Regions from separate parts of the Homo sapiens genome. Here region 2 is linked to region 1. The links come from fine-mapping of genetic effects on gene expression. A gene starts in region 1. The other region holds a variant in brackets. All regions are shown on one strand. Distances are between the middles of the regions. Region 1 holds the start of CSNK1A1 (casein kinase 1 alpha 1). Region 2 overlaps CSNK1A1 (casein kinase 1 alpha 1).

Region 1 (15,683 bases):
CTGGAGTGCAGTGGTGTGATCTTGGCTCACTACAACCTCTGCCTCCTGGGTTCAAGCAATTCTCCTGCCTCAGCCACCCGAGTAGCTGGGATTACAGGCATGTGCCACCATGTCTGGCTAATTTTTGTGTTCTTGGTAGAGATAGGGTTTTACCACGTTGGCCAGGCTGGTCTCGAACTCTTGACCTCATGATCTGCCCACCTCGGCCTCCCAAAGTGCTGGGATTACAGGCGTGAGCCACTGTGCCTGGCCAGTTTTTGCAAATTTTAAGAAATGAAAAATAAAATACGTACTTATATTTTTTGGGACAAGGTCTCGCTCTGTTGCCTGGGCTAGAATGCAGTAGTGTGATATGCAGATATACTGATACACATACACATATATACATATGCATAGAAAAATGCTGGAATTTTATACAGCAAAATGTTAACATTTGGTGATTACCTCTAAGAGATTTTTGTTTTTTTCCGATTTATCTGAATTTTAGAAATTTTTCAATGTCACATTTATAAGGAAAGGAACAGTAAATATTTTATACATATAAAAATATATATACACACACACACACACACACACACACACACACACACACACACACACATATATATATGGTTTTTTAAAGATCATTGGGTTGTCTGGTTGGGCACAGTGGCTCACGCCTGTAATCCCAGCACTTTAGGAGGCCGAGGAGGGAGGATCACTTGAGCCCAGGTATTCAAGACCAGTCAGAACAATATGGTGAGATCCCCTTCTCTAGTTCTTTCTTTCTTATTTTTTTGGTGAGAGGGGGACTGAGTCTCGCTCTGTCGCCCAGGCTGGAGTGCAGTGGCACAATCTCAGCTCACTGCAACCTTTGCCTCCTGGGTTCAAGCCATTTTCCTGCCTCAGCCTCCTGAGTAGCTGGGATTATAGGCGCAAGCCACCACGCCCAGCTAATTTTTGTATTTTTAGTAGAGACAGGATTTCACCATGTTGGTCAGGCTGGTCTCGAACTCCTGACCTCGTGATCCGCCCGCCTCAGCCTCCCAAAGTGCTGGGATTGCATGGCGTAAGCCATGGTGCCCGGTCAGTCCCTGTCTCTATTTCTAAGAACGTAAAAAAAGAAAGAAAGAAGAAAAAAGGGCCGAGCACAGTGGCTCATGCTTGTAATCCCAGCACTTTGGGAGGCCAAGTCAGGTGGATCACCTGAGGTCAGGAGTTTGAGACCAGCCTAACATGGCAAAACCCCGTCTCTGCCCATCTCTACTAAAAATATGATAATTAGCCAGTCGTGGTGGCAGGCACCTGTAATCCCAGCTACTTGGGAGGCAGAGGCAGGAGAATTGCTTGAACCCAGGAGACAGAGGTTGCAGTGGGCCAAGATCGTGCCATTGCACTCCAGCCTGGGCGACAGAGTGAGACTCTGTCTCAAAAAAAAAAAAAAAAAATTATTGGGTAAACATATAGAACTTACCAATCTTTAGAATCTAGAAGCTATATGAATCAAAAGAATAAATATATTCAAAAAATAACATTAATTGAAATAAATGTATGGTTAATTAGGCCATAAAAAGTAAGCAATACATGCAGTCTCAAATGGGTTTGAAGTTGCTAACTGTGGAAGCTAAAGCAACTCCTCCTGGATGGGAGGCTAAAGCAACTCCCTGTTAGGCCAGGTGCAGTGGCACATGCCTGTGGTCCCATTTACTTGGGAGGCTAAGGCAGAGGCTTGCTTGAGCCTAGGAGTTTAACGCTGCAGTGAGCCATGATCACACTACTGCACTCCAGCATGGGCAACAGAAGGAGACCCTGTCCCAAATAAATAAATAAATAAACAAACAAACAAACAAACAAAGCAACTCCATCTTGGAAACTAAGCCACCATTTTGGCTTAACTGCAGTTCCAGGAAGTCCTTGAAAATTCCCAGTTTATCTATGTTCCTTGTGTAACAGCAGATATTTACTGTAAATCCTACTCTTAGGTCAAACAACTTTGATGTTATCCACTTCAATTGTCCTACAGGTCATATCTGAACCATTCCTTTCCCTGTGGTATATAAGTCCTGGGTCTCGGGCGTAATGGCATGGGTATCCACCATCTTGGTTTCTGTTCCTTGAACTCAATGGCTTCTGTTCGAAGTCCCTATTAAATGTTTCTTTCTTAAATACTGTATTTGTCAGCTTCTTCCTTCAGCATCCCAACTTCCTCAGACTTTGGGGTACTTTTGCACAGACCTAGCCACCGCAAAACACTGTCATAGATGCAGCAATCCACTTTCACAAAACCCCATGGACAATGCAGAGGGGGAGAACAGGGACTGATTAAAGAAAGGGACAGAAATGGCATCACTATCCAAGACTGAAAAACAGGCTGAATGGATTATCACTCTGACCCAACTGCACATTTCTAATGTCTTCATGTTTTCAATTACTCCATGAATTCCCTTATCTGATGCTGATTATGCACAGGACTGTGTAAGAGTTAAACAACACCTGACACTGGTGACTCACACCTGTAATCCGAGCATTTTGGGAGGCTGAAGCAGGTGGATAATCTGAGGTCAGGAGTTTGAGACCAGCCTGGTCAACACGGAGAAACTCCATCTCTACTAAAAATACAAAATTACGGCCAGGTGCAGTGGCTCATACCTGTAATCCCAGCACTTTGGGAGGCCGAGGCAGGTGGATCACCTGAGATCAGAGGTTTGAAACCAGCCTGGTCAACATGGTGAAACCCCGTCTCTACTAAAAATACAAAATTAGCTGGGTGTGGTGGCACATGCCTGTAATCCCAGCTACTTGGGAGGCTGAGACAGGAGAATCGCTCGAACCTGGGAGGCGAAGGTTGCAGTGAGGCAAAATTGCACCATTGCACTCCAGGTTGGACAACAAGAGCGAGACTCCATCTCAAAATAAATAAATAAATAAATAAATAAATAAATAAATACAAAAACTAGCTGGGCATGGTGGCATGTGCCTGTAATCCCAGCCACTCAAGAGGCTGAGGCAGGAGAATCACTTGCACCCGGGAGGCGGAGGTTGCAGTGAGCTGAGATCGCGCCACTGTACTCCAGCCTGGGCGACAGAGTGAGACTCCATCTCAAAAATAAATAATAAATAAAATAAACAACACTTGGGACACTGACGTTTCTAAGGCATTCCATTTTTCTATTTACTTGCACCAAACAATTCTAGAGATTGGCAGGCTACCCTTCTGTTTTTAGCATCCATCTAGACTTCTTGTGCTTGTCTCTATCATTTCACTCAAAGCACATTCTGGATACCAGTGACCGTTGCTTGAGTAAACACTGTGGCTTAAAAAAATGGTTTTTGTTTTTATTATTTTAAAACATTTTTGTAGTGATGTGGTCTATGTTGCTCAGGCTGGTCTTGAACTCCTGGCCTCAAGCGATCCTCCTATCTCAGCCTCCCAAAGTGCAGGGATTATAGGCATGAGCCATCACACCCAGCCAAGAAAAAAAAAAGTTTTAAAATTCATCTTGAATTCCCTACGAACACAGAAGTAATCCCTGGGACATGATTGTCCTAATTTGTGTTCTACTCTTTCCTTTTTCTCTTTCTTTTGGTAGTAGTTGTGGCTCTAGTCCTGTCACTGCCACTAAGATCTCTATGATTTTGGGCAAGCCACTTTGTCTTACTGGGGCACAAATGATATGTGTGAAAGTACTCTAAATTGCAGGCTGGGTACAGTGGTTCTTGCCTGTCATCCTAGCGTTTTGGGAGGATGAGGCGTCAGGATCACTTGAGTCCAGGAGTTCAAGACCAGCCTGGGCAACAAGGCAAGACACTATTTCTACAAAAAGTTAAAAAAAAAAAAAAAATTAGCCAGGCATGGTGGTGCCTGCCTATAGTCCTAGCTACTGGGGAAGCTTGAGGCAGGGGGATTGCTTGAGCCCAGGAGGTCTAGACTATAGTGAGCTATGGTGGTGCCATTGTACTCCAGCCTGGGTGACAGAGTGAGACTTTGACTCATAAGTAAATTGCAAAGCATTAAAAAATACAATTATTATTATTGAACTAGGTGATCTCTGTATTTCCCTCAAGGTCTAAAATTTTTATTTTTATTCTACACTTTTGATATTTTTAGTGAATTCATCTGATCTAGAAGCCAGAAATTGCTCTTTGAAGACTCCTTTCTTTCTTTCTTTTTTTTTTTTTTTTTGAGACAGAGTCTCACTCTGTAGCCCAGGGTGGAGTGCAATGGCACGATCTCAGCTCACTGCAACTTCCGCCTCTCGGGTTCCAGCGATTCTCCTGCCTCAGCCTCCTGAGTAGCTGGGACTACAGGCGCCTGCCACCACGCCCGGCTAATTTTTGTACTTTTTAGTATAGACGGGGTTTCACCATATTGGCCAGCTGGTCTCGAACTCCTGACCTTGTGATCCGCCTGCCTTGGCCTCCCAAAGTGCTGGGATTACAGGCGTGAGCCACCGTGCCTGGCCTAAAAGACTCCTTTCATTACACCAAAGCTGCTGCTGATTCAATAAGTACAGAATGATTTGTGACTTTAACAGCAACACCAAAAACAGGTTATTCTTCAATCTTTTAGGCTAAAATTACTGCAAATGATACATGACTTTAAGAAGAAGGCTGAGTCATAGCCAACACCTGAGGACTTCATTTTCTATGTAAAAAAAAAAAAAAACAATTTTGCCATTCTTAAATCCAATAAATTTAAATCTTAAGAAACTAAAATCACATTTGAAAAGGCTAGACCCACTCACATCTCATTTTTGTGCATTTTGCTGGGCACTGTCAGTGTTGGAATGGTGACTATAGCAGGCAGGAAACAAAGGAGGACTCATACCTTATATACAAAATTATAGAATCTCAGGGTTAGAAGGGTTTCCAGAAGTCATTTAGACCAGTAGAATTTAATGGGCTTACACAAGTTCTAAAAAAAAGGCGAGGAGGATTAGACATACAAGTACCTATCATTCATTCATTCATTCATTCATTTATTGAGACAAGGTCTCACTCTGTTGCTCAGGCTGGAATGCTGTGGTTTGATCATAGCTCACAGCAGCCTGGAACTCCTGGAGTCAAATGATCCTCCTGCCTTGGCCTCCCAAAGTGTTGGGATTACATGCATGAGCCACCGTACGCAGCTTTCAACTTTTTTTTTGAGACAAAGTCTCACTCTCTTGCCCAGGCCGGAGTGCAGTGGCACAATCTCGGCTCACTGCAATCTCTACCTCCCCAGTTCAAGCGATTCTCATGCCTCAGCCTCCCAAGTAGCTGGGATTACAGGCATGCGCCACCACGCCCGGCTAATTTTTGTGTTTTTAGTAGAGACAGGGTTTCACCATGTTGGCCAGGATGGTCTCGAACTCCTGACCTCAGGTGATTGCCCTTCCTTGGCCTCCCAAAGTGCTAGGATTACAGGTGTGAGCCACTGCACCCGGGCTCAACTTTTAACCGAGCAAGAATATTTTAAAAACCAAAACCATCTACCATCGGCACCTTTTTATAAAAGAGCATTTTAATGACACATATGTGAAAAGACTAAATCTCAGAATGAAATATAATGTGAAATCAGATAAATAAATGAAAGATGTATTGCTTACTTTTCTCACATCCTCATGGCAAACTTTGTTAGCCACTTGCACCTGTCCATACACAGATCTTTGGGAATCACTAATTTAGACCACTTCATGCCCACCCTTACCCTGCCCCCGGCTTCATTGAGCATTTTTATCACAATACCAAAATATCCGTCTAAATGTATACCTCATCCCCTTATGGAGAACTCCTCAAGCTGAGGAATCCATTAAACTTTGGATGTGTGTGAGAAAATTAGCAGAAAAGGAGTGATCTCTGGAAAACTCAAGATGCTTAAACTTGGCTTTTTTTTTTTTAAGACCAGAATTGATTAATTAATTAATTTTTTAGATGGAGTGGAGTCTCGCTCTGTCTCCAGGCTGGAGTGCAGTGGCACGATCTCGGCTCACTGTAACCTCTGCCTCCCAGGTTCAAGCGATTCTCCTGCCTCAGCCTCCCTAGTAGCTGGAGCTACAAGGCACATGCTACCATGCCCAGCTAAGTTTTGTATTTTTAGTAGAGACAGGGTTTCACCACGTTGGCCAGAATGGTCTCGAACTCCCGACCTCAGGTGATCCAGCCGCCTCGGCCTCCCAAAGTGCTGGGATTACAGGTGTGAGCCCACCATGCCCGGCTGCATTTTATATCAGAATTTAACAGCAGATTTTAACTTAGTCAAAACATGCTTTAGAGTCACCAAAGGAGAATGATGTCTAACAGTGCTGATTTGGGAGTTGGGCACCCTGAGTGTTGGTTGGGCTTTAAAAACTTCATGCTAAACTTCAGGGGAAGTCTCCTCCCCTCTCTCTTCAGTTGTCTTCCGAGATGAACCCTATTACTAATTACTTGACCACCTTTCAAAGTTGCAGTTAAAATTCTTCACATTTTTCTCCCATTTCTATTTAATTAATTATTTTTTTTTTGAGACAGGGTCTCTCTGTTGCCCAGGCTGGAGTACAGTGGCGTGATCTAGTCTCACCGCAACCTCCGCCTCCCGGGTTCAAGCGATTCTCAGACTCCCGAATAGCTGGGGTTACAAGTGTGCGCCATCACACCCGGCTAATTTTTGTATTTTTAGTAGATACGGGGTTTCATCATGTTGGCCAGGCTGGTCTCGAACAACTGACCTCAAGTGATCTGCCCGCCCCGGCCTCCCGAAGTGCTGGGATTACAGGCGTGAGCCACTGCGCCCGCCCCCCATTTCTATTTTAATTAAATTTTATTTAGGATAGGCTTAGCTTAAATTTTTACGACTGAGGTCTGACTTAAGATGATAGCATCAACCATGGAGTTTTCTTTCGTGAACATTATTATTACTAAGCCCAATTTTCCCAGGTCAAATTTTGTAAAACAAAACGTGGTCAAAATTTGATTCTCTGATCGATTTTTTGTAAAAAAGAAAAAAATTACCGTGTAGTTTTAAATGTTGTCAATTAAATTTTGTAATAGTTACCTCTACTCTGTTCAGGTTAATACTGAGGTTTTCAACAAGACCAACATACGATTCTTTTTTTTTTTTTTTTTTTTTTTTTTGGTGGGGTTGAGGGGACATAACAGTTTTTTCACTCTTGTTAAATTAATTTTCTGTTGATTCCATCTATCCTTAATCTTCATTATGAGCAACATACCAGGTTTTCTTCTGAAGATCATATGTGGTAGTGAGGCAATAATGCAAAGACATAGGATGGCAGGGGGATTCCGGCTTCTTTCTTTCTTCCCCTCCTGTGGAAAGAGGGTCTATAACACTCCGTAGTAGATAGGACAATTCTAATTATGAAGGGTAATTAGCTAGGCTCTGCTACAACCGAGAGCCCTGAGAGATTCCTCGACGCTGGCTGCTTTTCTCTTCCTCTCCACCAGAGGCGACAGCCTCTTTCCAAACAGAAACTGGGTTGGAATAGGCCGGTCCGGGGGAACGGCCAGAAGAAAGATCAAAGGTTAAAAACCGCCTCAAAGAGCACAGGTCAATACCCAACTCCTAAGGAGGCCTTAAGCTTTCATCTGCCACGAAACATGAAGGTGACTCCTCCCAATATCAAGGCCGGGGGGCCACTCAGCCTTCCAGAGACCCGGCGGGTCCGAGGCGAGTAACAGGTAACACCTGCTGAGCCGCCGCCGACCGGAAGTGGAAGAGAGCCCGGGACGGGGGTGAGGACAGGCCGCGGCACGCCTGCGCAGTCAGCAGGAGTTGCAGCGCTCATGCGCAGCTGGGCGGTGACAGGGTGACGCTCGGAGCGTGGGCCGCGACTCTCACGGATCCGGTTCCGCCCTCTCGCTGCCGATCCTTCGGAGCGAGCGCCCGAGATCCCTTTCCCAGAGTGCTCTGCGCCGTGAAGAAGCGGCTCCCGGGGACTGGGGGCATTTTGTGTTGGCTGGAGCTGGAGTAACAAGATGGCGTCGTCCGCGGAGTGACAGGGGTCCCTCTGGGCCGGAGCCGGCGGCAGTGGTGGCAGCGGTATCGCCGCCCTAGCTCACCGCGCCCCTTTTCCAGCCCGCGACGTCGCCGCGCAAGCGAGGCAGCGGCGGCCGCCGAGAAACAAGTGGCCCAGCCTGGTAACCGCCGAGAAGCCCTTCACAAACTGCGGCCTGGCAAAAAGAAACCTGACTGAGCGGCGGTGATCAGGTTCCCCTCTGCTGATTCTGGGCCCCGAACCCCGGTAAAGGCCTCCGTGTTCCGTTTCCTGCCGCCCTCCTCCGTAGCCTTGCCTAGTGTAGGAGCCCCGAGGCCTCCGTCCTCTTCCCAGAGGTGTCGGGGCTTGGCCCCAGCCTCCATCTTCGTCTCTCAGGATGGCGAGTAGCAGCGGCTCCAAGGCTGAATTCATTGTCGGAGGGAAATATAAACTGGTACGGAAGATCGGGTCTGGCTCCTTCGGGGACATCTATTTGGCGATCAACATCACCAACGGCGAGGTAATCATCTGGGGTGGGGTTCACGATAACGCTGCGCTTTTACTCATTCCCCCCACCACCACCGTGCACCCCCAAAGTGCTCGGGCCTCTCCTCATCGCACGCACTCGCCAGGGAGTCCAGGGAGCTAGTTTTCCTGGCTTACGAACCTCGTCCGCTGTCTCCCTAAAAGGGTCAAGAACCCGATAGAAAGGTTGGGGGAACTAGTTTCCCACCTTGTTAAACACGTCCCATAAATGTCCCTTAGTCGAGCTTTTTTTTTTTTTAACCGTCTTTTAAGGTGGAAACGGCAAAATCCTCTTTCAGTGATTCCCATGTTTTTTTTTTTTTAATTCTTAATTCTACTGGGCCTCTTGTTCCAATTAGAACAGTTTCCGATCGCCTAGTTCCTTAAAAACCTCTCACTACGTTCAGAGGTTGCCTCTTTTTTCTGGATGAATCATTTTCCTGCACTTTAGAGGACGTACGGATTTCGTCACTACCCCCTGAAGAGGCCTTTGAGGCTGGTTGCCTCGTTTTATAATTACCGAGAGCTTTCTCTTTCCAGCTTTTCACTTCTTCTTGTAGTCGCGACTTGGAGTTTTGCTAATGTCTCCCTCCTTTCCTAAGTGACATTGAATCCGTAGGGATGTTGATGCCATCATCCCCTCTTTCCCCTGCAGGAAGTGGCAGTGAAGCTAGAATCTCAGAAGGCCAGGCATCCCCAGTTGCTGTACGAGAGCAAGCTCTATAAGATTCTTCAAGGTGGGGTTGGCATCCCCCACATACGGTAAGAACCCGGTGCATATAGGCGATCCGCTGAGGGAAGCACGGAATGGGGAAGTGGGTAGAGGCAGGTAATGAGACCAGCTGAATCCGGGTCTTGGTGTTTTAGTTACCTGGGTTCCCTATAGCTGGTGGTTTCCTGTAAGTCAGTCATCTCAATTACTGAGTAAATTTCAGTTTGCCAACTTATTTCATTGTATTACACTGCTCCATTTCGCTTCCGTCATTCTCACTCTTCCCGAGGCTTTCATTTGCAGTTATGCGTGCAGGTCATCTTTGATCCCTACGCGGAAGGGTTGGCTGCTGCCTTTTTTACGGCGGCACTTCTGATGTACTTAGGTTTGTCCAGTGAAGTGGATTTGAAGGTGCCGAAGCGACCCGGCAGTGTCAGTTCGAGTTGCTATTGGAGCTGGCTTGGGAAATGGCTGCTCTTTTGTTGTGTTTTTGTTCCAACATGTCTTCCTCCTCCGCTTAGAAAATGGCGGAACGACGTGACTCAACCCCATATTCCTGCCCTTTTCTCAGCTTGAGTTCACAAATTATGCTTCCTTGATTCCTCCTTTAGCAGCCCCGAGTGGATTAAACCTTTGAAAAGCCAAGAATAAAGCTGCAGGAGGCGGTGTGGAGGTTCGAGGAAGGAGATGGCATAGTGACAGTGTTTGTGATCTCTGCAGCAGATGTGACACGAAATTGTTGAATTACACTATGTAAAATCCTTCGTAGTTCTTTTAAAAGTGTTAATTACTCTTTCTTTTCGTGAATGGTCATATTTGGCACGTTTCAGTCGGGACTAAATTTGTATAGGTAGTGGCAAAGGCAGTTTGAGCAGCACCAACTATGTTAAAATTTACTCATATCAGTTGTATTTAAAAAAATCTTAATCACTTAGCCACACTTTGATAAGTAATTTTAACCTGTTGAGTTTGTCAGTAAATCTTCACATCAGAGAAATTGGGGCCTTTGTTGGTGTGGAATATTGGTGAGTGCAAATAGCAGTAACGAGGATAAAAGATGACGAGATAGACATTGTTCTGTCAAATGGTTAACTTTACTTTGGAGGGTTTTAATGTTTTAACTTTTGGGATTAAAGATCCTCTTCATGGAATGGAGACTAAAATATAGTTTAAAGCCCAGCTATTTTCCAGCAATAATCTAAAATAACATTTGCAAAATTATTCAGAATAGGTAAGAATGGTACTTACTGTTTACTGGAGCCTCTTCTTTAAGACGGAGTTTTCGCTCTTGTGGTCCAGGCTGGAGTGCAATGAATGGCACGATCTTGGCTCACTGCAACCTCTGCCTCCCGGGTTCAAGTGATTCTCGTGCCTCAGCCTCCTGAGTAGCTGGGATTACAGGCGCCCGCCACCACGCCTAGCTAATTTTTGTATTTTAGTTTCACCACGTTGGCCAGGCTGGGCTCGAACTCCTGACCTCAGGTGATCTGCCTGCCTCGGCCTCCCAAAGTGCTGGGATTACAGGCATGAGCCACTGTGCCCGGCTTTTTTTTCTTTTGAAACGGAGCCTTACTCTGTTGCCCAGGCTAGAGTGCAGTGGCGCAACCTTGGCTAACTGCAGCCTCCGCCTCCCAGGTTCAAGTGATCCTCCTGCCTCAGCCTCCCAAGTAGCTGGAATTGCAGAGCTGCACTACTACGCCTGGCTAATTTTTGTATTTTTAGTAGAGCTGAGGTTTTGCCGTGTTGGCCAGGCTGGTCTCCACCTCCTGACCTCAGGTGATCCACCTGCCTCAGCCTCCCAAAGTGCTGGGATTATAGGCGTGAGCCACCGGGCCCAGCCTGTTAGCCCCTTTTTCTATTCCAGTTTGTATTTTTCATGTCTTGAATTAAGGACTGGGTTGCATAGTCTTTACATGGAAACAACTCAAATAAAACTGTCCTTAAAAAGAGTTCCAGCCAGGCGTGGTGGCTCACGCCTGTAATCCAAGCACTTTGGGAGGCCAAGGCAGGCAGGTTACTTTAAGTCAGGAGTTCAACACCAGCCTGGCCAACGTGGTGAAACCTCGTCTCTACTAAAAATACAAAAATTAGCTGAGCATGGTGGCACGTGCCTGTAATCCCAGCTACTCGGGAGGCTGAAGCAGGAGAATAGCTTGAACCCGGGAGTCGGAGGTTGCAGTAAGCTGAGATGGCGCCACTGCACTCCAGCCTGGTGACAGAGCGAGACGCCATCTCAAAAAAACACAAAAAAACACAACAAAAAAAAAAACAAAGTTCCAATGCTGATTTACAGTTTTAATGGAGAATTGAGTGATAAAATGTGCTATTGGTTGTAAATGAGCAAGTAAATCATTTGGAAGAAAGTTGCAAATTTATCTTATGAGGTGAAGATTAAATCTGAGATGATATAGATTTGAAGTTTTTAAATCATTCTTGCCTTTAAAAAAAAAACCTACTATGTGGGAAAATAAGGCCCCTCACCCCTGATTTGCTTTCCATTACTATAGTTTTTCCTAGAATTTCATATAAATGGAATCATACGATATGAGGTCATTTGTGTCTGGCACTTTTCACTTAACATAATGTTTTTGAGATTCATCTATGTTGGGAGATTTTATAAATTTCACAAATCAGGTTAAATTTAATGTATTTGAAATCAGTTTCAAAAAGCATTAAGCATTGTCATTTTTCAGTGCTAAACCCAAGTACAGTACATGTCCTTTTATCTGGTAGCTTTTATTTAAGACCTGATACAGACCCATAAGGGCAATGAGTAATGTACTGAATAAGCACATGAATAAATTAACTTCTGAGCAGAATTATAGTAATAGGTGCCTATTATAAGGTGGTGAGTGCAGAGAGAGTTATGGTAGTTATAAGCTGTCTGTGGGTGAGGCTAAACAGATTAACCTGACTTTCAAGTTAAGGCTTCCTGAGAGATGGGATTTCAGGATCTGGCTCTAAGGAAGAAAGCTTGGTGAACTGGTTTGGTAAGGCATCCAAGAATAGAGTGTGGCTTCTGGGTGTAGTCTCTAAAGGAGAACACAGTAATTGGATGAGAGTGTGGAAAGGGTAAATTTGCTTTAGGAGTGGTAGGGTCAGGTACATGGAAACAAAAGTGGTTCATTGGTTTTAAAGTGAAATGTAAAAAAAAAACTGTTTCCACTGAAGCAAAAAGGATAAAGATTTATGTAAACATTCTTTATTTGGGTAGCAGCATCTTCCCATCCCCCTCAGTTTGTTCCCCACTATTTCTGTATCACCTATACATGGTACATACTTAATAAATATTTACTCGGAAAGTATTGAATTAAGTTGACTATTTAGTGTTAGCTAGATAAAAGTTATGTGTTATCTATTGTTTTAGAAGTATTGTCACTAATTTAAAAAATTTAGATTTTGCTGCCTTTATCCTTCATATACAAATTTGTTCAATCCCTTCCCTATGTTTTCTGTTACAAAATTCCCTATAGGATTTGCTTTTTTTTTTTTTGACATGGAGTCTCACTCTGTTACCAGGCTGGAGTGCAGTGGTACAGTCTTGGCTCACTGCAGCCTCCACCTCCTGGGTTCAAGCAATTCTCCTGCCTTAGCCTCCTGAGTAGCTGGGACTACAGGCACGTGCTGCCACGCCCAGCTAATTTTTGTATTTTTAATAGAGATGGGGCTTTACCATTTTGGCCAGGATGGTCTCCATCTCTTGACCTCGTGATCTGCTCGCCTCGGCCTCTCAAAGTGCTTGGATTACAGGCATGAGCCACCGCACCCAGCCAGGATTTTCTTTAAGATACTTTGGTATATCTTACAACAGAGACTGAAAATTACCTGGCCTGCGTAGATGACCTGCTGAATCAGGTCCTTCCTGTGTAATTTGAGAGACCTATTGTTAAGAAGCATAGCATCCTGAGTAAAGAGCAAGGATAAGCCGGGCGCCATGGCTCACGCCTGTAATCCCAGCACTTTGGGAGGCCGAGGTGGGCAGATTGCCTGAGCCCAGGAGTTGGAGACCAGCCTGGGTAGTAGAGACAGGTGAAACCCTGTCTCTACTAAAATACAAAAAAAAAAAAAATTAGCCTGGTGTGGTGGCGTGCGCCTGTAGTGCCAGCTACTCAGGAGGCTGAGGCAGGAGAATTGCTTGAACATGGGAGGCGGAGGTTGCAGTGAGCCAAGATCGTGCCACTGCACTCCAGCCTGGGCGACAGAATGAGGCTCCGTATCAAAAAAAAAAAAGCAAGGATAAGAGAATGGCATCCATTTTCTTGATATTTTAAGAAATGAAGCTTCCGGTTCTAGGCACTTGGAGAGCCGCGGCTTAAGGTACAGACATGGCCAAGTCCACGAACCACACCACACACAACCAGTCCTGAAAATGGCACAGAAATGGTGGGCTCCAGGTTCCTGAGGAACATGCACTTTGCCAAGAAGCACAAGAAGGGCCTAAAGAAGATGCAGGCCAACAATGCCAAGGCAATGAGTGCACTTGCTGAGGCTAGCAGGGCCCTCGTAAAGCCCAAGGAGGTTAAGCCCAAGATCCCAAAGGGTGTCAGCTGCGAACTCGATTGACTTGCCTACATTGTCCACCCCAAGCTTGGGAAGTGTGCTTGTGTCCGCATTGCCAAGGGGCTCAGACTGTGTGGGCCAAAGGCCAAGGATCAACCAAGGCCCAGGCTGCAGCTCCAGCTTCAGTTCCAGCTCAGGCTCCTCCCAAAGGCTCTCAGGCCCCTACAAAGGCTTCGGAGTAGGTATCTCTGTCTGCCAACGTGAGGACAGAAGGACTGATGCAACCCCCCTGGGCTGCCGTCTTTATGGGGCTGGGGTCCTCCTGTGCTATTAGTACAAATAAACCTGAGGCAGGGGAAAAAAAAAGAAAGAAAATTCTTGGACCTTGTCAATTAATATGTGAGAGCTCACTTAAAATTACAGTTGACCCTTGAACAGTGCTGGGGTTAGGGGCACTGAACCCCAGCCCACTCCCACTGTGCCCCACAGTCAGGAATCCAAGTGTAACTTTTTTTTTTTTTTTGAGATGGAGTCTTGCTCTGTCACCCAGGCTGGAGTGCAATGGTGTGATCTTGGCTCACTGCAACCTCTGCCTCCCAGGTTCATGGGATTACAGGCGCGCCGCCACACCCAGCTAATTTTTGTATTTTTAGTAGAGACGGGGTTTCACAGTGATGGCCAGGCTAGTCTCAAACTCCTGACCTCAGATGATCCACCCACCTCGGCCCGCCAAAGTGCTGGGATTACAGGCATGGACCACTGCACCTGGCCCCAAGTATAACTTGACTCCCCAAAAGCTTAACTACTACTAGCCTACTGTTCACTGGAAGCTTCACCAATAACATGATTGGTCAATAACTATATATATATATATATATATATATATAAAGCTCTTTACCCTCATCATCCTCACTTTGGGCTGAGGAGGAAGAAGAGGGGTTGATCTTGTTTGGGTAGCAGAGGCAGAAAAAAACCTGTGTACAAGTGGACCTGTGCATTTCAAGCCCCTTTTGTTCAAGGGTCAGCTGTATTGAGTTTCTGTTAAAACCTTTTTTTGTGTGTTCCATTCTAAATTGAATTAAGTTCTCCAAAGGAACAATTTAAAAATTTTTTTAAATTTTTTTTATATAGATGGGCTCTTGCTATATTGCCCAGACTGGTCTTGCATTCCTGAGCTCAAGTACTTCTCCTGCCTCAGCCTCCCAAAGCGCTGGGATTATAGGCATCAGCCACCGTGCAATGACCCAAGAAACAACTATGACATACCGAAAAATTCTTTATCTAGATAGGTTTTGGAGGTTTGAGCTGTAGATCTGCCATGTGATATTGACTGGGTCATCTACAGTCAGTCAGTTCCTTAATGTGTGTAAGCCCATCTGTTTCCTCATTTAGAACATAAAAAAAGGATTGTTCTAATGGGAAGGAGAGTGCTGAATAGAAAGATTTAGGGCTGCCTACCCTTCTTTTGCCAGCTAAATACTCATTTCCATTTGCCTTTGCATACTGAGCTTTTGGGTAGGGTTTTGTTTGAACAAGGGTTCCCTACTTAAAAGTGTCACTGGCCTCATTGATCCTAAGGACTTTTAGTCCTGGAATTTTAAGACCTATTTTCAAAGGATAGTAGCTAGAAAAAAAGCATTCCAGCAGTTTGATATTGTGTCTACTACTTGCCTTCCTTTCTTGTTTTTCCTATTTTTCTTTCATCTTTTATTATTTTTATTTTTAGCGGCAGGTTCTTGCTCTGTCACCCGGGCGGAGTGCAGTGGCTATTCAGAAGTATGATAATAGCACACTACAGCCTCAAACTCCTGGACTCAAATGATCCTCCTGCCTCTTAGCCTCCTGAGTAGCTAGGACTGCAGATGAATACCACCTCTCCCAGCTGCCTAGTGTGTTTTAATCACTATTTTTGCCCTCTGTGTCTGAAGGTCAAATGTTTTAGAACGTATTTATAAAGCACTAGTTAATCCTTACTCTTCACTTTTAAAAGCAGCTTAATCTTATCTTTGGCACTG
Region 2 (15,683 bases), 26 kb after region 1:
TGATAATGAACAGTGGTAAAGTTTTTTTTGTTTGTTTTTATAATTTTTGGAGTTAAGGAACATCTACATATCTTTGAAGGCAAAGGGCAAGGAACAAAGGTGGAGAATATGAAAATGTACGGTAATTCAAGGATCTTGGGGGTAATGTTGTAAGCAAAGGATTAGTAGTAACAAGGCAGCAAGAAGAGGGAAAACAAATCATCTTAGTTGACTACGTTATTGCTGAGCAAAACATACATGATTTTCAAATATTAGATCTTATTCTACAGGCTATTTATCTCAAAAGTTGGTTTGGAACAGGGGCTCTTAACCTGGTTCATAACCATATCCACCCCCCATGAGATCTATGTATTTAGACAGGTAAGGAAAATTACATTTTTATTTTCATGAGCTTCTCACTCAAATCTAGTATTTCTTTTTGATTTTAAGTGTAAGTAGGAAACCTCATGAGTTTTAGCAGAACCTTTGACTTTGTCACCAATAGAAATCACTGATTTTTGTGGGGGGTAGATGGAGTTTTGCTCTTACCGCCAGGCTGGAGTGCAATGGCGTGATCTTGGCTCACTGCATCTCCTGCCTCCCAGGTTCAAGTGATTCTCCTTAGCCTCCTGAGTAGCTGGGATTACAGGCGCCCAACGCCACGCCCGGCTGATATTTGCATATTTAGTAGAGATGGGGTTTCACCATGTTGGCCAGAGTGGTCTCAAACTCCTGACCTCAGGTGATCCATCTGCCTCGACCTCCCAAAGTGCTAGAATTGCAGGTGTGAGCCACTGCACCCAGCTAGAAATCGCAGATTTTTTTTTTTTTTAGACTAAGTCTCACTCTGTGGCCCAGGCTGGAGTGCAACAGTATGATCTCAGCATGAGCCACTCCGCCCGGCTGAAATCACAGGTATTTTATATCACATTATTGTTGCAGGTATCTTAAAATATAGTTTACACTCATTACTACATCAAAATTATAGCATTTATTAGACCTGCTCCTATATTTAATGCATTAATAAGCAGAGTGTAGGGCTGGGCACTGTGGCTCACACCAGTAATCCCAACATTTTAGGAGGCCAAGGCAGGCGGATCACGTGAGGCCAGGAGTTCAAAATCAGCCTGGCCAACATGGTGAAACCCTGTCTCTACTAAAAATACAAAAATCAGCCAGGAGTGGTCGCATATGCCTGTAATCCCAACAGGTGGATGAGGCATGAGAATCTCTTGAACCTGGGAGGCAGAGACTGTAGTGAACCAAGATCACACCATTGCACTCCAGCCTGGGCGACACAGTGAGATCCTGTCTCAAAAAATAATAATAATAAGGAGAGTATGTATATTACTATATCCCAAATTCCTTTTTTTTTTTTTTGAGATGGAGTCTTGCTGTCACCCAGGCTTGAGTGCAGTGGCATAAGCTCGGCCCACTGCAGCGTCTGCCTCCTGAGTAGCTGGGATTACAGGTCCCCACCACCATGTGCGGCTAATTTTTTGTTTTTTGTTTTTTTTTTTTTTGTATTTTTAGTAGAGACAGGGTTTTGCCATGTTGGCTAGGCTGGTCTCGAACTCCTGACCTCCAGCGATCCACCCACCTCAGCCTCCCAAAGTGCTGGGATTACAGGCTTGAGCCACTGCACCTGGCTCAAAATTGATTTTTTTTCTTTTTCTTTTCTTTCTTTCTTTTTTTTTTGAGACAGAGTTTTGTTCTTGTTGCCCAGGCAGGAGTGCAATAGCGTGATCTCGGCTCACTGCAACCTCGGCCTCCCGGGTTCAAGCAATTTTCCTGCCTCAGCCTTCCAAGTAGCTGGATTACAGGCATGTTAATTTTGTATTTTTATTAGAGATGGGATTTCTCCATGTTGGTTAGGCTGGTCTCGAATTGCCGACCTCAGGTGATCCGCCCTCCTTGGCCTCCCAAAGTGCTGGGATTACAGGCATGAGCCACTGTGCCTGGCCCCAAAATTGATTGTTTAGAAGTAATTTTATGCTAGTTCAATTTCGCTATAATTGATTTTCTTTATAATGCCTTGTATTTTATGCATTTAAAACATTCTGAGAAGAGATGTATGGGGAGAAGAGGTATCTGGTTTTGAGAATACATCTGTGTATAATGAATGGCAAATAGCTGTTAAGAATGGCATATACAAATATGAATGTATAGGAAAATTGAAAGGATTTTAGAGAAAAGGGAACAGAGTAGCTGAAACTTTTTTTTTTTGTTTATGTGTTCTTTTTTTTTTTTTGAGACAGAGTCTCGCTTTGTCATCCAGGCTGGAGTGCAATGGCGAGATCTCAGCTCATGGCAACCTCTGCTGCCTGGGTTCAAGCAATTCTCCTGTCTCAGCCTCCTGAGTAGGTGGGACTATAGGCGCCCACCACCATGCCCAGCTAATTTTTGTATTTTTAGTAGAGACGGGGTTTCACCATATTGGTCAGACTGGTCTCGAACTCCTGGCCTCATGATCCGCCCGCCTCGGCTTCCCAGAGTGCTGGGATTACAGGCGTGAGCCACCGCGCCTGGCCTGAGTAGCTGGAACTGTTAGCAGTAGTATCCTAAAGAGACAATTTGAGTTAGTTCTTACGGTTCAGCAAGATCTTGCTAGGCCAAATTCCTTTTCTGCTCCCATTAAAAAGGAGCATAAAGGTTGGATAATGATGGGCTGGCAAGAGACTAAGTTTGAGAGACAGTATCTTCAGGATATCTTGTAGGTGCTATTAAAATTGGATATATTATAGCACTGATTCAGTGTTGATACTTTTTAGTTGTTCACTGAAGACTCTGACATTAATAACCGAAAGATTGGCAAACGACTTTTTAACTTTTATAATTATTTGGCTTATTTGAACTAGGGATAAATAGATGCTTCCTGATGTCTTCACTTGGAGTGCAGGGAGTGTTTTTGCATTTCTTGTTTTGTTTTCCTTATCTGCCAAATCAAGCACTCCCTACACTGTTACAGCTTCTAATATGAGTTTTCATTATTTTACTCAGCAAATGTTTTGAGCATCTCTTGTGTATGCTGGGAATACAGATTGTGAACAAGACAAATATAATGATTGCCCCTAATTAAGTTAATAGTCTGAAGGGGAAGATCTACATTAAATTTTTTTTTTTACTGTTATTTTGTCCTGGTCATGGTGATGGAACTAACATATATTTGGGTAAAGTGCATATTACAATAATTACACTGATTTATTCTGGAATATTCTGGGTCTCATAGTAATACTTAAATATTTTTATATGAAAAATATGTATTTTTTTTCTCAAATACTCCCATTTTCATGAAGACATTTTTCAGAAAAAAGCAAACCCCTAGCTTGAAATCTCCGGCTATAGTATAACACTTCCTAATTGGTAACCATGTCATTGTCATTCCTTCCCCTGGTCCTCCATTTCCATATTGTATACTGATGCCAAGGCTAATAATTACTGATTTTAATTATGTCTCAGCCACAAACTGTAGTAATAGTTCACCCAATTATTTACAGCATGTAAAGCTCATAAGCCTTGCACTGAAGAACCTATACTGCAGCTTCAATCTATCTGCCACCTTGACTCTTCCCTTTATGACAGCCCATGCCCCAAAATGGTTTGCCCCTGCCTGGTAAGCCCTTTTCTGCCTTACTTATCAAAACACTGTTCATCCTTCAGGATCTGACTGGTAGCAGACTATTTTCCTAATACCTCTTTAGACAGATTTAGTTCTCATTGATCTTTTGTGTGAATCATGTTAGCATTTTTTGTCAGCCTCATTGACTTTTGCATGTATTGTCTTACATTTGTGCTTTTTGTGTATGTCTTAATTTTTAAATTGGATTTAATTTGGATATGCGTTTAGAGGAAAGGACATAAGAGCAGAGAGATAGACCTTGCCTTCTCTTGGCATTATCTTCAGACCTTAGATACTTTTTTTATGCTGTAAGTAAGTAATAATGGTTGTGTAAATTATGAACTCATTCTTCAGCCTAGTTTTAGGTAACACTGAAGTCTAAAGGTATAGATTTGAAACAAATGGAAAATGAGATCCCCGAACATTTTATCTTTTTAAAATTATTATTTTCACTTTCACCCATTAAATTACTTGATTTTTTTTAATGTTTCGTAACTTAGGAAGAATAAGGTCCAAATCAACTGGAATACTTTTTTTAGTCTCATAATTACCTGAGTACCTGCAATATGCACATCACTTTACCACTGTACACTTAGTAGCAACACGTCTTGTACTTAAAAATGTCTAAAGGTAAGACCTGTGTTTCTAGTTTGAAGGCCTAGAAAGTAAATGAGTGAGGTTTTTGTGTTGGTGTTTCAGACTATAAACTTAAATGGCCTCAGAGAATCGGGTTAGTGCTTGTTCATGACTCAGGTTCTGTGAAAAGGCTATTCAAATAAAAATAAAGCTGTAAGCTCTATCCTACCAGGTATAGAGACAAACACCAAAGTTACAGTAGATGAGTATTGTCAAGGGGTTAAGACTGTGGACACAAGCAATAGTTAATGGCTTTGGGAATTCTAGGAAATAGGAGACCAATGTGGGATAGGTGACATTAGGAAGATTTCTTTGGCATCTGGGTTTTAAGGTTGGGATTGAAGGTAGAGAAAAGCTCTCAGAATAGACGTGGGAAGCATGGAGGTGAAGGTAGAAACTAAGAATAAGTAAGATTGGAATAAGCAGAAGACCATTTCTGGTTCTGAATCTGTGTGTGATAATGTCTGAATGAGTTAGTCCAGATGGAAGAGCACAGATGGAGGGTGTGACGTTCTAGCTTTAGAGAATTAAGCTATATATTCCTTGAGACCAAAGGAAGTGTGAAAGATGTAAACTCCTGTCTCTTAGGTTTAAGGAGTTATAGTACCAGTCCATAGAAAAGAAAGTCCTAGCTGTTTTAGAACTGCATGGTTGCTCCACAAGGTAAAATGCCTTTGAGACGCTTATTTTTTTTTAGCTATTTTCAAGGAAGTATTTAATCCTCCTGACTTTGAGAATAGTGAATATGTCTTGTGTTCATAAATTTAAGCAAGGATGAAGAATGCCCAATAATGTGTGTGTGTTTTAAGTGTGCTTCTCAATTCATCTAATTCTTCCCAGTTTCTAACTATTAAGGGAGTTAGAGGCTTACATGCAGGTGATTTTGTTAGAGGCTTACTTTGCAGATGATTTCTTTATGAAATCATGTTAATTGCATGAAAATATAAAGTCTGAATTTGTGCCTTTTACATTTCAGGTTTGTGTTTGGGCTTAGATGGATGGTTATAACATTTGCTTGTTTTTTGTAGTTTTACATCTGAGCCATCAGTGGAAACCTGTCTAGAGCTGAGACTTGGTCTTATAAATAAGAGTTGATTTATGCCTTCCCTTTTGCCTATTTGACTTTTTGCGCCTTCTTACTTCCTTAGCTCTTTCTGGATTTGGTGTTCTCGTTTTCTTAAAAGCCTAGGTAAATTATATTTATATTAAACAAGTGTTGAACGTTTGTAATGGTAGGTTCGTGACAGATCTCTAGTCCAGATTTGCCTATCACATAAAAAGGAAGAGGGAAAATAACAAAAGAAAATAAAATGAGGAAAAGGGAAAGGAGAACCCAGCTTATTTGCTTTATCACTTACCTTTTAATACTGTTATTTATGTATTACCCAAAGCATCACTGTGAGCTTCTTTCAAGTAAATGTTTCAGCGAATGTGAAAGGTGTTGAATTCCCATAGGGAGAATAAAGAGTGGAAGAGGGAAAATAACAGCAGCTTTAGTATGCTGTTTTAAGCAATAAGGACAAAACTGGCTCTTCTGGCCGGGTGTGGTGGCTCAAACCTGTAATCCCAGGACTTTGGGAGGCCAAGAGGTGGATCAGCTGAGGTCAGGAATTCGAGACCAGCCTGGCCAACATTGTGAAACGCCGTCACTACTAAAAATACAAAAATTAGCTGGGCGTGGTGGCAGGCGCCTATAATCCCAGCTACTTGGGAGGCTGAGGCATGAGAAGCACTTGAACCTGGGAGGCAGAGGTTGCAGTGAGCCAAGATCGCACCACTGCACTCGAGCCTGTCGGACAGAGCAAGAGACTGTGTCTCAAAAAAAAAAAAATGGCTCTTTTGCTGTCACGTTGACACATTTGTTTCCTAGCCTAGTGGGCAAGACCTCTAGAAAGTTAAGCAGAACTTTTCCCTTACTGGGTTATCTTTTTCTGCAAAGAGGATGTGGAAATGGATTTGATTTTGTGTGCTTGGCAGTTATCCATGTGTCAGGTTTGGGAAGTAGTTCTCAAGAACAACTGAAGCAAAAGTCGTAGGAAGGAACTGAACTTTTTGGCTTATAATCCTCTTAGGATCTCTTACTCTCAACATAAGATTCTAGGGAGCATATTTATTATACCTGACTATGAGACCTATCTGAATAGATCTGAAATTAAAGCTGACTGATTTGAGGCTCCCCCCCCTTTCTCAGGTGCTATGCCTGAAATTTCTGCAGTTTTGGTAGATGCCATCAAGGGTTAATGGGTGCCCAGGACCACTAGTTAGAATAGACTCTTTTCTTAAAGAAGAGCCACAAGAGTAGCACATCTGTATAGTTATCTTTGCATTTTCTAGAAAAATATTCTTAAAAGATTAAATCCTCATACTCTAGTTTTAATATTGATTTTCTTGAATCATTGGCATTTATCAGCAAAGCAGGAAATGGCACTAAACAGTTTCCTACTTGACTGATACTTGTTATAATTTTGACACAGATTTTAGTTTTCTTAAAAAGCTGGTGAGGTACAGTGGTTCAACTTGTAATCCCAGTGCTTTGGGAGGCTGAGGCAGGAGGATCGCTTGAGTCCAGAAGTTAGAGACTAGCCTGGGCAACGTAGGGAGACTCTGCCTTTACAAGAAATTTGAAAGACCATGTCTCTACCAAAAACTTTTTTAAAATTTAGCTGGGCATGATGGCACGCCTGTGGTCCCAGCTACTTGGGAAGCTGAAATAGGAGGATTGCTTGAGACCAGAAGGTCAAAGGCTGCAGGAGTTGTGATTTGCCACTGCACCCCAGCCTGGCAACAGAGCGAGACCTTGTCTAAAAATAAATGAATAAATAAATAAATAGATAAATAAGGAGGAAGGAAGGGAAAGGAAGAAAAGCCTGTTCTCCCCTTTTGAATATTTTTAAAACATAAGCTTTCCAGATATGGTAAATTTTGGGATTGGTTCTTATTGGAGTTAACAAAGAAATGACTGCAGTTTAAGCTTTAAAATAACTTTTTAAACAAAATTTTAAGTATCACCTGATTTTCTTAGCAGAATTTAATATCTAGAAAAGTTTGAAAGAAAAGTGGTAGTGCTTATTTTAAGGAAAGTACTCTTACCAGAATCATAGGCATCAAAATTTGAAATAATTTATTGCAGTGATTTTCAGTCCTTGGGATAAATGAAATTGGCAGTTGATACTTCTTATTAGGGACACATTGTATACAGTAATACAGCCCAGGATAATTAAAACATGATTCCAGTTAAAAGCAAATAAATGTCATTACCTTGTGTTATATGGGTTATTTTCTGTGATCTGAAGCCAAGGAAAAATGTGACTCCTTTTTGAATAAGGACAAGTAATTATTGATTAAATGCAATTTGGTAGGAACTGGAATCGAAGTTCAGATAAAAGAAATCTTTGCTTTCTGAAACATTTTGGAATGACTGATAGAGTCATCTTCATTTCTTCAGTTACAAAGTAAATTCAGGTGAGATTAAGGAATTTGGTAAAGGCCATAGGAATCAGTGGCCAGTGGGTATAAAATTCAGCTGCCCTGGTAACAGGAGTGTTAAGGCTACTATGCATGTCCTATCTATATAGGAGAATGGAGTTGCATGACAGGGAAAAAAAAAAGTCTCATTACCCTTGTTTTGTCTTTGGGCCTTGTAGTTAATTAGTGGGTTTGTCTTCTGAGTAGGGGAACATTCGCCTTATATAATACCTAGTCAGTGAAAGAAAACTATATTATTCTTAGGGTTGATGATATTAAGTAATAGCTTTTTGTAATATCCTCTCTTCTCCTTTTGTTTCGTTAGGTGGTATGGTCAGGAAAAAGACTACAATGTACTAGTCATGGATCTTCTGGGACCTAGCCTCGAAGACCTCTTCAATTTCTGTTCAAGAAGGTTCACAATGAAAACTGTACTTATGTTAGCTGACCAGGTATGTGAAATTTTGATTAGAATATAAACTGAGACTAGTACTGTTGACTGGAATTTCATTATTCATAAATCAGAGTATTAAAATCCTGTGCATCACTATTTAACCTTAGCATAGGCAGAAAAAAAATAATAATGTGACTTGTAGATATTTTCCTATGGGAATAAGACAAAACCTGGAATTATCTTGGTTTCTTACTCATCTGTAGACTAGTAGTTTTCAATCTGCTCCTTCAGATGAAGTTTTAGTGTCATATGTAGCAGGTTATTGTAAGATTTTGTTTGGAGAGTTTAGAGTGTATGTATGCATATAATTGTTGATAAATGTTTATTGACATTTTGGTTAAATTAAGCAAAATTGAATATTATGTATTATGTGTGGGACTCTTAGAAAAGCTATATTTTTGAGGATAAAAAGGTCCTGAAGTAATATAAGGAAGAATTTTTTGACCAAGTAGATGCTGCTTGGAGTAATGGATTCTCAACCATTTGTGTTACTTAAGACCTAGGAAATTTTGG[T/A]GATGTCATGAATTAGATTGATGCATTGGCTGTAGGTTAGATTAAATGGTTTTTACAGCCAAAGTTTGGATATTTCGATCTTAAGAAATGAGAAAGATGAGTAAGGAACAAACCTTAAGGGAAAAGATAATACATTAAGGTAATGATTGGTAAATATCAAGACATGTATAATTTTTTGTTTTGATCAGTATTTGTTACCTTTAAGGGCAGGAAAATGCTGGAAATGCTTTAAGTTAAACTCAGTGTGCTTATAAAAATACTATGAAGAGAATGACATTTAAAAATATAATGGAGGGTTTGTGACAGCTCTCTAGTCCAGATTTGCCTATCACATAAAAAGGAAGAGGGAAAATAACAGAAGAAAATAAAATGAGGAAAAGGGAAAGGAGAACACAGGTTATTTGTTTTATCACTTACCTTTATTTACTTTATCACTTACCTTTTAATACTATTATTTATGTATTACCCAAAGCATCACTGTGAGCTTCTTTCAAGTAAATGTCATAAAGTAAAATGAGATAAACAGACATGGTATTTGAGGTGGAATTTTAGTAAGTTTGTAAATTCAGAGGGATGAAGAGAAGTAGGTTAATGGGCACAAAAATACAGTTAGGAGGAATAAGTTCTAGTATTACATAGTATAGTAGGGAAATTATAGTTAACAATAGCTTATCGTTTATTTCAAAATAGCTAGAAGAGTAGAATTGTAATGTTCCTAACACAAAATATAAATGTTTGAAGTAATGGATATCCCAACTACCCTGATTTGATAATTACACATTGTATACATGTAACAAAATATCACACATACCCCATAAATATATACAACTATTATAGATCAATGAAAAAACTTTGTCTATAATTCCAAGGATTAGAAAGTAGTGCCCATTTTCTGTAATCAGCACCTGATACTCCCCAAGCTTCTTAACCTTAAAAGTACTCAGTGGCTCAAGCAAATGTGAGCAAATTGTGATATTTGTGGCACAAAACAAACTCAAGCATTAAAAGGTTAAAAGTGGCGCGGCACACTGGCTCACGCCTGTAATCCAGCACTTTGGGAGACCAAGACACGAGGATCTCTTGAGCCCAGGAGTTCCAGGCTACAGTGAGCTATAATAATGCCACTGCACTCCAGCCTGAGCAATAGAGCAAAGACCCCATCTCTTTTATGTTAACAGCCTTTAATGTGGGCTGGGTTTGGTGGCTCATGCCTACAGTCCCAGCACTTTTGAGAGGCCAAGGCCGGTAAATCACCTGAGGTCAGGAGTTCGAGACCAGCCTGGCCAACATAGTGAAACCCATCTCTACTAAAAGTACAAAAATTAGCCAGGCGTGGTGGCTGACACCTGTAATCCCAGCTACCCGGGAGGCTGAGGCATGAGAATCACATGAACCCAGGAGGTGGAGATTGCAGTGAGCCGAGATCGCACCACTGCACTCCAGCCTGGGGGATAGAACGAGACTCTGTCTCAAAAAAAAAAAAAGCCTTTAATATGTTTTAACTAACATATATGAGTGAATCCTAATAAAAGAGTTATGGCTTATGTTTTTGTTTGTTCAGTAACACGTAAGCATCCATACATTGAACATGTATTGAGAGCCTACCACTGTACTTAGTGCTGGGGGTTGGGGTGGCAAAAAAATAAGAATTAGTCTCTTCCCTCTAGAAAGAAACTTAGAGTCTAATAAAGAAAGATGGAAAAATAAGATGTTCCATCCTTGTTGTAGAGTTGTAGAAGTCTCTGTTGGGTACACGGGTAACAAATGTGAAAAAATATAATTCTGAGGAAGGGAGATACAAGAAAGCTTTCATTTAAGGTAGTTGACACCTAAGTCTTGCTCTGTGGTTGACAGGTAACAGGTGTAAGTTGTTCAAGCCAGAGATTACTAGTTTGGCTTCAGAAGACATTTGTCAAGGTAGAAGAGTACAATTTAGAATCTGTGTATTCATGATAATAAAAGCTCTGGGGAAAATGGGGACAAATAAAAAATAGAATCCTAACAGATACTACTGGGTAGAGCAAGAACATATGGACAGAAAGATAATGTTGGCAGTCTTTGGATATGTAATCTATTTAAAAATACAACTTCTAAGTAAGTGTCTTATAGAAAAGATAGAGGCTGGGTGTGATGGCTCATGCCAGCAATCCCAGCACTTTGGGAGGCAGAAGCAGGAGGATCACTTGAGCTCAGGAGTTCGAGAGCAGCCTGGGCAACATAACGATACCCCCCTTTCCACAAAAAATACAAAAATTAGCTGGGCATGGTAACGCGCATGTCCGTAGTTCCAGCTTCTCAGGGGGCTGAGCTGAGAGGATCACTTGAGCCCCGGAAGTTGAAGCTGCTGTGAGCCGTGATCTCGTCACTGCACCCCAGCCAGGGTGACAAAGTGAGACTCTGTCTCAAAAAAAACAAAAAAACACAGAACTTCTATTGTATACAAGAAATGCCATAAGCAGTCAAAATAAAAAATAATTTAAATTTGTTTACATAATGACAGATAAAAGATTGTTTGTTTTATGACGAGAACTCCTAAAAGCTAACAAGAAGACAATAGGCCGAAAGAAAAATAGGCAAAGAGTGGAGCTTGACAGTACATAGAAGAGTAAATCCTCATAGAAGGGCCAGGCGCAGTGGCTCACGCCTGTAATCCCAGCTCTTTGGGAGGCCGAGGCAGGTGGATCATTTTAGGCCAGGAGCTGGAAACCAACATGGTGAAACCCTGTCTCTACTAAAAATAAAAAAAAGTACCCAGGCATGTGGCGGGTGCCTGTAATCCCAACTACTCGGGAGGCTGAGGCAAGAGAATCGCTTGAACCCAGGAGGCAGAGGTTGCAGTGAGCCAAAATTGCACCACTGCACTCCAGCCTGGGCAGCAGAGTGAGTGAGACTCTGTCTCAAAAAAAAAAAAAAATCCTCATGGAAGGATTACTTCTAAATCGAGGCCGGGCATGGTGGTTCACACCTGTAATCCTACCACATTGGGAGGTCGAGGCAGGAGGATCTCCTGAACCCAGGAGTTCAAGAGCAGCTGGGCAACATAACGATATCCCGTCTCTACCAAAAATTAAAAATTAGCTGACACAAAAAAATTAGCCAGGTGTAGTGGCATGCACCTTATAGTTTCAGCTACTCCAGAGGGTGAAGTGTGAGGATCACTGGAGCCTGGAAGGTTGAGGCAGCAGTGAGTTATGGTTGCTTCACTGCACTTCAGCCTAGGTGACAGTGAGACCCTGTCTCAAAAAAAAAAAAAAAAAAAGAAGAGTAAATCCAAATTGTTACAGCCTATTGTGGAAGGCAGTGTGATATTATCTATCAAAATGAAAAATACACCCTTCAACTCAGCAACTCCCCATAATTATATGGGATTTGAAGCCCATAGAAATAAAAGCACTAGTGGGTAAAGATACATGTCTATTAATGGCATTATTTATAGTAGGAAAAAGTGGAAAACAATGTGAGAATACTGTGAGTTGGGGAAGACATAACATCTCTACCACAGAATATTTGTAGCCATTAAAAAGGATATTTGAGCTATAGCGTTTGACTTTGCATAATTTCCAAGAAATTAAGGAAAGCTTTTAAGAATGGCATGTTTAATATTTAACTTTTGGAATGAGATTATATAAGAATTATAACAACTACTTATAGCTTAATCTGCCAATCTGTCAACATCCTCCACTCCCAAGTATATGTGTATCTGTTTGTGTGCATATGTATATCTTATAACATGGAATTAGGTCTGGGTAATACAAGGCCATTTTAACAGGTTACTTTAGAAGGCCTAGGATTGAGTGTGGAAAGTTTTTATTTTATTTCCTTTATTGTAGCAACTGAAACTATTATACAGGTATTCCTTTTATTATTTGAAAATCACAAACACCAAGTCTTCCTATGGGGTTAGACCCTGCCATGGTTTTAATTATTAATACTAGAAGGTAAAGCCAAAGGACACAGCAGGTATATGCTTAGATATCCATTAACCTAGAAATAAATGGAGAACTTAGTTGTCCTTTCCATTTCATTTTCTTTAGCGCTGTCTTTGTGAACTCTAAATAATTGAGATACTGAAATACTTAAGAAATGTGTTGATTTTCATTTACTACTTAACTCAATTATCTCTCCCTTCTTTTTTTTCCAGATGATCAGTAGAATTGAATATGTGCATACAAAGAATTTTATACACAGAGACATTAAACCAGATAACTTCCTAATGGGTATTGGGCGTCACTGTAATAAGGTTAGTCAAATGCTCTTTGCATGAAAGAACAAAGAGTAAAGTTTCGACAAGAATTGCTTTGGTAAACTTTTCAATCTTTTAAAAAGCCATAGTAAGTTGAATTTGCTGTTGACAGTTGCTTTAAAAGATTGTGCTATGAGGATAATCAGCTAACTCCATTAACTTAGTAACTTGAAATAAATTATCTTCAACTTACCCAACCGAGGTTAGTTACCTATATGGAAATATAAAATTCTAAGGGCTGTATAATGAACTGTAGTTGTCTAAGTTATTTAACTGTTGAACAGTTGTATCTATTTTTCATTCACAAAAATAGCAAAAACCCCCATATTCTTTTCTTCCTGAATGCTTAAAACCAGATTTTAACCTTTGGCTCTGAAGTGTGGGTTTTTATAATATATGTGCTTGTGCCAGTGTGGGAACACTGACTTATCTGTCACCATGGTGTTAACATTTGCTGACTGAGCATGGTTGATAATGAGAATTCTTCAGTCCTTGAATTTGTGTATTTAAAAGGGTAACTTTTGGGCCTGCTTCAAAAGTAGTTGACAGTTTTTTACTTGGGTGCCAAATTGGGTGAGTTCTCCACCCCTCCCTCTCCCTTTAAAGGAAAATGTAGACAAGTGAAATGAACATTCATACAACAAAACTAGTGTTCATTTGGGGTCTCTGAGAGTGGTTCAACTTATGGGGTGATTGGGTTTTAGCTAGTGGCGCATGATTGCAGTTAGAAACTAATTGTGTTGACTTTTTTTCTGTAATGATTAGTCTTACTGAGTGAATTGCTTTCTTTATCGATACTATGTTGAGCTCGGGCAGACAGGCAGCATTGGCAATGCACTAAGCATGTTGTGATCTGATGATCTATCTGATAGAAATTCTCAACTTCAGGACAACTTGGGGGCTTTTTTTGTTTTTTTGTGGCTTTTTTGTTTTGTTTTTGGAAGGAAGATGCCCATTTGTTTTACTAAACTATTAGGAAATGTTTGGTGTTTTTAGGTCTAGCTATAAATGTTTACCTTTGTTTGCCTGTATGAATGCCAACTGGGAGACATTACCATTAGAATTGGTGTTATTTGTCAATGTGAGATACTGATGTTGGTCTGATTAGGTTTTAGGAAATTAAATTTTTTTGTTGAGCTTTAAATAATGAAAGGTGTTTAAATATACACATAACTTATCTTGTCATTCCCAAGTTGCATTAAAAAATATTTTATAGCTTTTCTCTGAAGTATCCAGGTTTTTATTACTGTAAAGCCTGGTAATTCAATTGAAAAAAAAATTACTGTTCTTAAGTTTTGGGGCAGTTTTGTCCATTTGACTCCAATCTTCTTGGCCATTTCCCAGCCCTCTCCTTCCTGTTTTCTTACCCCCTAAAAACCCATTATCACCATGTGATTCCTATTCTGCATCGTTGACATTGCAGTACGTGGTTTTTGCCTTAAATTTAAATGATGACCTAGATATCACTTTGCCTTCCCCCCCTCCCCCACAACCCCCTTAAGAATAGCTTGTTAATCGCATAGTTGTCTTAAGGAAGTGTAAGTTATCTAGTGGTGAAAACCTTTTTAGGAGGTTTAGGTCTCCTTTTCTCCTTGAGATATTAAAAATAATTTTGTGGAGCTGCTTGCTGCTTAACACTGTTTTAGAGAGGCCATGGGGAAGAAGCAAAGTGTTTTACTCAACTAAGATTCAAATGCTAAATGTTGCTCTTGAACATTTTAGATTAGTGTTTTGTTTATGTAGTTGATTTTTAGTGTTTTCTGTATTGTAGTTTGAAAAATGCCAGTTGTATGAGACTGGATTCTTTGGTCAGCTTGTTCCAGTAGTTTTCTATTCATGGGGAAAAAAAGGTTTTGGGGGGCTTTTGAGGACAATTTTTAAAGTTAAATTTCTTATTTGGAAAATTGTTCTGAATTTGATATTTAGGAGTGGCCACTCCAATCTTAGTGAATTTGCTCATCTCTTCCAGTAATCAGCCCTGCATGCTTACGAAAATAAATTTTAAGGTGACTAAATGCCTTCTACCTCTTCCTTACTGAAGATTTTTTTCCCCCGTACAATATTTTTTTGGGGGGGAAGGGCAGATTGTGGTACCAAAGATTGCAGATCTAAATTCCCCATTTTTGATTAAAAATATAAAAGAGCCAAATGTCACCATTGCTATCCCTGTTTCAGGCAGTGACACAAAATAGTGGCATTAAAAACCTGAGTAATTTCCAGAATTCAAATGTTCTTGAGCATGTGATTCTTATTTGGAAAACTGAGAAGCTACAGTGCTTGGTGGAAGAAGGATGGCATTTGGCTACCCTGTTCTTTCTCTAATGCCTCGGTGTTGCCTGTCTGCGCCGGCCATTGTTGCAATGTAAGCAATACTGTTTGATGCACTGCCACCCTCTATTGTCTGTTTAGTGTTTAGAATCTCCAGTGGGGAAGAGGAAAAGAAGCATGACTGTTAGTACTTCTCAGGACCCATCTTTCTCAGGATTAAACCAGGTCTGAAACTGTCTCCTATTCCAACCTCAATCCCAAATTCATGTGCTTTTCTTTTTTATTGTTTTATTTTGATGATTTTTGTTTTGTTTTAATTCTGGAGAATGTAGATCTTGCTCAAGCACCTCTTACGTTGGCATTATTCAGACATACTTGGCAAACATAACATTACTAAGATATTTCTTTGTGGCTTTTGCTTAAAACTTATAAAGTTTAGAAAAAAGCTAAATGAAAATAGGATATTATGTTTAGCTCTCTAACATACATATGAGGAAATGATGTTG

What was found. PIP is the estimated chance that this variant, and not a neighbour inherited with it, causes the effect. A credible set is the group of variants that fine-mapping cannot tell apart.
Region 2: its variant is the best candidate, but not a certain one, in a credible set for the expression of CSNK1A1 in whole blood (INTERVAL, PIP 0.69).

The regions. Positions count from the first base shown.
Region 1 is chr5:149,543,610-149,559,292 of GRCh38, reverse strand. It overlaps CSNK1A1 (casein kinase 1 alpha 1), which reads left to right and starts at 7,854. Exons shown (of 10, transcript NM_001892.6): 1 at 7,854-8,451; 2 at 9,112-9,218. The coding sequence starts at 8,329. It also overlaps the pseudogene RPL29P14 and a transcript of ARHGEF37 not described here. RefSeq lists enhancers at 7,277-7,346, 6,904-7,697, 7,397-8,066, 8,097-8,156, 8,287-8,346 and 5 more.
Region 2 is chr5:149,517,513-149,533,195 of GRCh38, reverse strand. CSNK1A1 (casein kinase 1 alpha 1) reads left to right here. Exons shown (of 10, transcript NM_001892.6): 3 at 8,025-8,151; 4 at 12,808-12,906. Among named protein-coding and RNA genes, the nearest start is that of CSNK1A1, 26 kb to the left of the region's middle. RefSeq lists an enhancer at 9,555-9,724. The variant T/A (reference allele first, on the strand shown) is at 8,667.